2 linked regions of the Homo sapiens genome follow. The protein of the gene in region 1 purifies or fractionates together with the protein of each later gene. This does not show direct contact. Each region holds a gene or a part of one and is shown in the gene's direction. Other genes may lie near its edges.

Region 1 (4,257 bases):
CCTAAGCTTCCCGAGTAGCTGAGATTACAGGCATGTGCCATCATGCCTGGCTAATTGCACTCCAGCCTGGGCAAAAAGAATAAAACTCTGTCTCAAAATAAGAATAATATTAATAATAATAATAAATAACTTCATTAACACAGGTCTTAAAGACCTCATTGAGATCTTTTCCTTTGCTTCCTAAAATATAACTTTTTTTTTTTTGAGACGGAGTTTTGCTCTTGTTGTCCAGTCTGGAGTGCAATGGCACAATCTTGGCTCACCGCAATCTCTTGAACCATCTCCTTGGTTCAAGTGATTCTCCTGCCTCAGCTTCCTGAGTAGCTGGGATTATAGGCATGCACCACCATGCCTGGCTAATTTTGTATATTTAGTAGAGACAGGGTTTCACCATGTTAACCAGGATGGTCTCGATCTCCTGACCTCATGATCCACCCGCCTCAGCCTCCCGAAGTGCTGGGATTACAGGCATGAGCCACCACGCCTGGCCCTAAAATATAACTTTCATATAAACACTCTATTATAGTCTCTAAATTTATAGCCTTGATTAAATATACAGAAACTAAGTAGTAGTCATCCAGATAAAAAGGGAGTGATAGTAAGTGATGGACTCAGCCTTGGCGAAGTTGTTCCCAGGATTCCTGTAGGACTTGGGTGCAGAAGGAAGATCTTTTTAAACTATTTATTTATTTATTTATTTATTTATTTATTTATTTATTTATTTTGAGACAAGAGTCTTGTTCAGTTGCCCAGGCTGGAGTGCAGTGGCGCAATCTCGGTCACTGCAAACTCTGCCTCCCGGGTTCAAGTGATTCTCCTGCCTCAGCCTCCCGAGTAGCTGGGATTGCAGGCACCTGCCACCATGCCCGGCTAATTTTTGTGTTTTTAGTAGAAATGGGGTTTTACCATGTTGGCCAAGCTGGTCTCAAACTCCTGACTTTGTGATCTGCCCGCCTCAGCCTCCCAAAGTGCTGGGATTACAGGCATGAGCCACTGCATCTGGCTTAGGAAGATCTTGAGGCAGTGCCTGCCCAACCGTCCTTGAGTGAGGTGGTGCTACCCTTCTTTTTTTTTTTTTTTTTTTTTTCGAGATGGAGTCTTGTTCTGCCACTCAGACTGGAGTGCAGTGGTCCGATCTTGGCTCACTGCAACCTCCACCTCCTGGGTTCAAGTGATTCTCCTGCCTCAGCCTCCCAAGTAGCTGGGATTACAGGCACCTGCCACAATGCCCAGCTCATTTTTATAATTTTAGTACAGATGGGTTTTGCCATGTTGGCCAGCTGGTTTTAATCTCCTGAGCTCAGGTGATCTGCCTGCCTCAGCCTCCCAAAGCGCTGGAATTACAGATATGAGCCACCACGCCTGGCCTGCCCTTTCTTCTTCTTCTTTTTTTTTATGGAGTCTCATTCTGTCACCCAGGTTGGAGTGCAGTGGCACGATCTCAGCCCACTGCAACCTCCGCCTCCCGGGTTCAAGCAATTCTCCCTGCCTCAGCCTCCCGAGTAGCTGGGACTACAAGCGTCTGCCACCATGCCCGACTAATTTTTGTATTTTTAGTAGAGATGGGGTTTCACCATATTGGCCAGGCCGGTCTTGAACTCCTGACTTCGTGATCTGCCCTCCTTGGCCTCCCAAAGTGCTGGAATTACAGGCGTGAGCCATGGCACCTGGCCTTGTTCTTTCTTCTTTAAGCTCCTCCTCCTTACATCTCTAGTGCCCAGGGTAGAGTCTGAGCAGTGTCTGATGGAGGTTCTAGGCTTCAGGTCCACTTAGAGTCCTCTGCCCTTACAGAAGGAAGGTAGGCTTACCTGCCTCTTGGTCATTAGACGTTATTGAACACCTGCCTAGGGGTGGGCAATGTGCTGGGTCCTGGAGTTGTGGTGAGAATGTCTTGTATAAACCCAAGTCTTTGAAGAGTTGAATAGGCTTCCTTAGTCCATATTTGTGCATGTCCTGGTTTTTCCTGTGCCAGATTTGAGCTTTCTGCTTTCTGGAGCTGCCAGGCAGGGGTCTGTAGGTTGTGAAACATGGAACTGGGTTGGCCATTCTAGTGGAAGGAAGACTAGACAAGTTGTTCAGGAGGAATGGGCTTGACCTCTCAGGACCTGGTCATCCTTTTAGCTCATGTAGGGAGCTGTGGGAATGGCTTTGAATGGACTTTGTCATATGCTACTTTTGCAGATCCTCCTCAGATCTCTGTCCTTTTCCCATTTACTGCCTCTGTACTTTGTTCTTGGAGTCCACCTGCAGCCTGCAGCAGTTTAGGCTTTTGCAGGAATTAGGAGGAATGCTGACAGGTACAGTTGTGCCACTTTGATTCTGAAAAGAAAGTTTGGATACCCAGGGTCTGCAGTGAGGCAGGTTCTTCAGCCTGGGTCTGTGGAGCCCTGCCAGTGTGCAGCCTCACCCTGATTCTCCTGCTACTCTCTATAAGGAGAAACTTTAAAATTTTTTTGTATTTGTTTTAAAAAAATGGTTTTGAGATGGGGTCTTGCTATTTTACCCAGGCTGGTCTTGAACTCCTGGGCTCAAGTGATCCTCCCGTCTCAGCCTCCTGCGTACCTGAGATTATAGGCCCTGATACAGGCACTTCATTTGTTACTGAGAAGCTTATGACAAAGTAACAAAGTGATATTTATCTCTTTCCTTCATTCTCCAGAGGCAACTACTTTCAATTTTTTCAGTTGTTTATGCTGTTTCCACCTATCTACATAATATACATTTACTATTATATTTTATTTATTTATTTTTATTATTATTATTTTTTGTTTGAGACGGAGTTTTACTCTTGTTGCCCAGGCTGGAGTGCAATGGCGCGATCTCGGCTCACTGCAACCTCCGCCTCCCGGTTCAAGCGATCCTCCTGCCTCAGCCTCCTGAGTAGCTGGGATTACAGGCATGTGCCACCACGCCTGGCTAATTTTGTATTTTTAGTAGAAACAGGGTTTCTCCATGTTGGTCAGGCTGGTCTCGAACTCCCGACCTCAGGTGATCCGCCCGCCTTGGCCTCTGAAAGTGCTGGGATTACAGGCATGAGCCACCGCACCCGGCCATTACTATTATATTTTATACATTTTTATATTTTTTAGCTACCTATTTGTGGTACATTATTTTATATTTTAGCTCTTAGTCTCCCTATCCCCTCCTTCTGCCCTGCCCATCCATATGATTTTATCACCCTTTGTGGTTTAATCCAATTCACCATTTTCATGATTACAACTTTATATATATTTTTTCTCTTAAGTAAGTATGAAGTATGATGTGCATTCCATTCCTTGTGTAACTTCTTGTTTCCCTTGGGATTGGGTTAATAATTGTGTTAAATCTTTTGTTTTGTTTGTCTTTGAATCACTGTCTCTGTCATTCTGTACCCTAAATGCTCTGTAGTGTACCTTTCTGTTTGGTTTGCTACACACTGCCTAAGGAGTTATTTTCTGTTGTTCTAGTGTGTATTGTTTTGTTCTGTTTTTGTTTTAGTTTAGTTTTGTTTTTTTGAGATGGAATTTTGCTGTGTTGCCAGGCTGGAGTACAGTGGCACAATCTCGGCTCACTGCAACCTTTGCCTCCCAGGTTCAAGCGATTCTCATGCCTCAGCTCCTGAGTAGCTGGGATTACAGGCATGCACCACCACACCCAGCTAATTTTTGTATTTTTAGTAGAGGCGGGGTTTCACCATGTTGGCCATGATGGTCTTGATCTCCTACCTTGTGATCCGCCTGCCTTGGCCTCCCAAAGTGCTGGAATTACAGGCATGAGCTACTGCACCCAGCCTTGTTCTGTTTTTCTTGGAAACATCGCTTTTGGAGTCCTCTACTGCCCTGTGGACTGACTGCTTCCCAGGTCCACTGCACCCTGTGCCATCCTAGAAACGCATTTCATCTCTCTTGGACTGGCCCCCTGGTCTCCCAGGTCCTGAATCTTCCTCGTTTACCACCTTGTTTGGCAGGGTATTTATGTATGTATTTGTCTGTCTGTCTAATTATTTATTGGTTACCACATAATTCACTTTCTTTTTTTTTTTCTAGAGATGGGGTCTCACTCTGTCACCCAGGGTAGAGTACAGTGGCAAGGTCATAGCTCACTGCAGCCTTGAACTCCTTGGCTCAAGTTATTCTCCCAACTCAGCCTCCTGACTGCCTAGGACTACAGGCACACACCACCACGTCTGGCTAACTTTTATTTTTTATTTGTTTTTGTAGAGACAGGGTCTTGCTATGCTGCCCAGGCTCATCTTCCCTTTCATTACTAAACTGTGCT
Region 2 (3,519 bases), on another chromosome or scaffold:
GTGGCGACACTGAAGGGAAAAAGGTAAGGCCCAGAGAGAGGCGTGCAAGGCAGATCGTCAAGGCCCCATGTTCCAGCATGGAGTTCCGCTCACCAACATAACCCAGAGCCCTGGGTGCATCTAGACTTTAAAAAAATATTTAAAGTCGGCCGGGCGCAGTGTCTCACGCCTGTAATCCCAGCACTTTGGGAGGCCGAGGTGGGCAGATCACCTGAGTTCGGGAGTTGGAGACCAGCCTGACCAACATGGAGAAACTCCATCTCTACTAAAAATACAAAATTAGCTGGGCGTGGTGGCGCGCGCCTGTAATCCCAGCTACTCAGGAGGCTGAGGCAGGAGAATCGCTTGAACCCGGGAGGTGGAGGTTGCAGTGAGCCGAGATTACGCCATTGCACTCCAGCCTGGGCCAACAAGAGCGAAACTCTGTCTCAAAGAAAAAAATAAATAAATAAAAAATATATGTATATGTATGTATGTGTGTGTGTGTGTATATATATATATATATATATATATATTTAAAATCAACTTTTAAAGAATAGCAATAGTAAAACAGTCCTGCTTACAGTGTTCCTTTTCCTGAAGTTGTAATTGTCAGAACTATGTGGGAAGTTTGCTTTTGTCTTCACCAAATCTGTTAAGGAGCCAGGTTGCAGTTATTCTGAATGGACAGAGATGTTTTCACTGAAAAGGAGGGGAGTCTGAGAGTCTCTGTAAGGAAAAAGTGTAGGTGAGCCTGAAGGAGAAATTGTAGAACTGAGACTTGTCAGGAGAGTCATGCTTGCTGTGATTAGAGGCGGGAGTTCACGGGCTGGTAGGAGACGGAGGAGGGCACAGACTGCAGGCAGGTGGGGTCCTGCTTCACCATTTCTGGTCATGTGACTGAGTGTTGGGGGTTGACTCGCCTGCCTGCTTGTGTAGAAATAGTCTCAACAGATTGTAACAATTTGCCCTTATTTAACTTCAAGATAGAATCTTGTCTGACAAATTTTATATTTCCTATTAATGATGACCTAAAAACCAAATAATCAGAAAAAAAATCAAATATTTGTAATGTCTTATGTATGGGTTCTGGGAAACATATAAAGAAGGCATCACCACTTTTCTCTCCAGAGCCTCCTGTTCTTTTTAGAAAAAAGGTCGTGTGTAAAGAAGCAAATAGCACATACACGGCATGATAGGAAACTGGAGTTAGCCGTGAAGAGCTTTGGAAGAGGTGTGCAGGGGTGTGGGCTAGAGTTGGACCAAGGATAGAAGGCACACCCCTTAGTAGCAGAGCAGGTAGTTGTCATTTTATTTGAGAAGTGGCAGGATTTAGGGAGGTGGGAAGGGAAGAATGTTTTCTGGAGATGAAAGGTAAGAGCAAAGATGTAGGGGGAATTGGGGACACAGAGCAGGGAGGGGCCGGCCTCCTAGTTGTGCCCTGGAAAGAAGTCAGGTCTATGTTAGAAGTGGAACCAATTGGCCAGGTGCGGTGGCTCACGCCTGTAATCCCAGCACTTTGGGAGGCTGAGGCGGGTGGATCACCTGAGGTCAGGAGTTCGAGACCATCCTGGCTAACACAGTGAAACCCCATCTCTACTAAAAATACAAAAAAAAAATTAGCCGGGCATGGTGGCACACGCCTGTAGTCTCAGCTACTCAGGAGGCTGAGGCAGGAGAATTGCTTGAACCTGGGAGGCGGAGGTTGCAGTGAGCTGAGATCACGCCACTGCACTCCAGCCTGGGTGACAGAGGGAGACTCCTTCTCAAAGGAAAAAAAAAAAAAAAAGAAGTGGAACCAATTATTACTTTACCAGGCTCTATAATTTTAAATACTGTAAATCTACTACTGTCATGCTTACAGTGTTAGAGGAAGGGAAACTGTCATCATAGGTAATGGAGCCTGGGCTGGGGAAGTGATTCCCGCATCGATCAATGCTCACTGTAAAGAACGAGTATGACCCACAGGGACGCAGAGGTCATTCCATGGCTTCAAGCTCATGGGCCAGGACAGTGCCACAGAAACTTCAACTAGATGCAAAGAGGCCTTAGCTCTGGGGAACCTGCAGCCCCCGCAGGCAGTAACAACACTGGGTGTCTGGGATGGCCTGGGCTAAGGTGAGATCGGCATGGGGAGATCAGCATTGTGATGACCAGTGCCTCTGGTATTTGCACCCTCCTTGGCTAGGACACTCGCCCAGGCATTTGGGCTGAGTAGTGGAATGAGATTACCGAAAACTTTGGGTGATTCCCACATTCATAGATTGTGGACAGAAATCCACTCTAGCAGTACTCACCTCATAATGCTGGAAATTTCCCAAAAAGGAATGAAATCATTAGAGTAAAAGCAATAGAGTATATTTTAAACTGCTACAGATGGTCACACTGATTGGTCCCTTCATGAGATGCCAGGACAGGAGAGGCTGGTTAGTCCCTGATTTGCTCATAAGTCTGCATGCAGCTGAGTCCGAACTGTCAGTCCCTTTGTTTTCCAGTCTACACAAACCTTGTTGTCACAAGTTTGCCCTTGCCCCAATGTGGATAGCTGCCAGGCCCTCTTTCTGAGCCTCCTCGTCACCTTGCCTCAAGCCCTCACATGTCCCCAGCAGGGTCAGTGTGGGGTCATTGCAGGCTCAGCCATCTGCCTGTTCTTCTTACTCCTCTTGACACCCATAGGACATGATTTGATTTCTATTAAATCCAGAAACTCAGGGAGCTGGAGTGTGTGTTATGTAACTCTCAGCATTTTTCGTGAAGAATTACATACTTTCTGTAAGTGCAGCTGAGGTCATCCCATAACCTCATGCATGATTGTGAAACAGACCTGATTTGGCTCAGTGCTAATATGGCCTTTGGGATCTTTGTTCATGAAAGCATTTCCTCAGTGCAGCAATGCAACCTGCTGCAAAGGGAGAACCCGCTCCTGCCAGAGGTATGGCTCAGGCTGCCAGACACAAGGAGATTCCCCATGTGTCCTGGCTGTGATTTCAGCAGACAGTTACCACAGTGCAGTATGGCATGGTAGTCGCAGTACAACATCACCAGGATGATCAAGAGCAAATACCATGACAAGAGGAAGACTGACTACAGGTGCCCTGTCAGCAGAAGACAGACTGGACAGAAAAGTATCTGCGGGAAGAAACAACACACTATCGGGATCAGGAAAGCATGAAATGTCAGTGACTCAAAACCAATGGCTTTTACACTCAGGCAGCCTGGGCATCGTAGCAAAGCTGCACACCTCCAAGGGGGCCCCGTAAGCAAACCAGATCCTTACGTCCACATGCTGCTATCCTAGTGAGCACCTGCCACATCCACCAAAAGGCAGGACACCTGCAGTTCTGTTTTTAAAAATTCTAGGTTTTGTCCCTGACACACAAATCATGGGTCTTAACCAAGGATGACTCAGCACAGCGCTGAGGACCAGGGTAATCACAAGAACTCAGGGAGGTGCAGGTCAGTAGGCCCGTAGGCTGAGGACACAGCAGGAGAGGGTGTGTTGTATATCACCTTGGCTAGCCACAGCGTCCAGGTTTTTTT

The links.
Region 2: the proteins of SLC25A20 (region 1) and OGDH fractionate together in Homo sapiens (co-fractionation; one large-scale study listed by BioGRID). This does not show direct contact.

Annotation. Positions count from the first base shown.
Region 1 is NC_000003.12:48,885,038-48,889,294, reverse strand, and holds part of SLC25A20 (mitochondrial carnitine/acylcarnitine carrier protein), read left to right. Parts: intron 1-4,257. UniProt on the Homo sapiens protein: Mediates the electroneutral exchange of acylcarnitines (O-acyl-(R)-carnitine or L-acylcarnitine) of different acyl chain lengths (ranging from O-acetyl-(R)-carnitine to long-chain O-acyl-(R)-carnitines) with free carnitine ((R)-carnitine or L-carnitine) across the mitochondrial inner membrane, via a ping-pong mechanism.
Region 2 is NC_000007.14:44,676,127-44,679,645, forward strand, and holds part of OGDH (2-oxoglutarate dehydrogenase complex component E1 isoform 1 precursor), read left to right. Parts: coding exon 1-23; coding exon of another isoform or gene 24-101; exon of another isoform or gene 102-456; intron 457-3,519. UniProt on the Homo sapiens protein: 2-oxoglutarate dehydrogenase (E1o) component of the 2-oxoglutarate dehydrogenase complex (OGDHC). Participates in the first step, rate limiting for the overall conversion of 2-oxoglutarate to succinyl-CoA and CO(2) catalyzed by the whole OGDHC.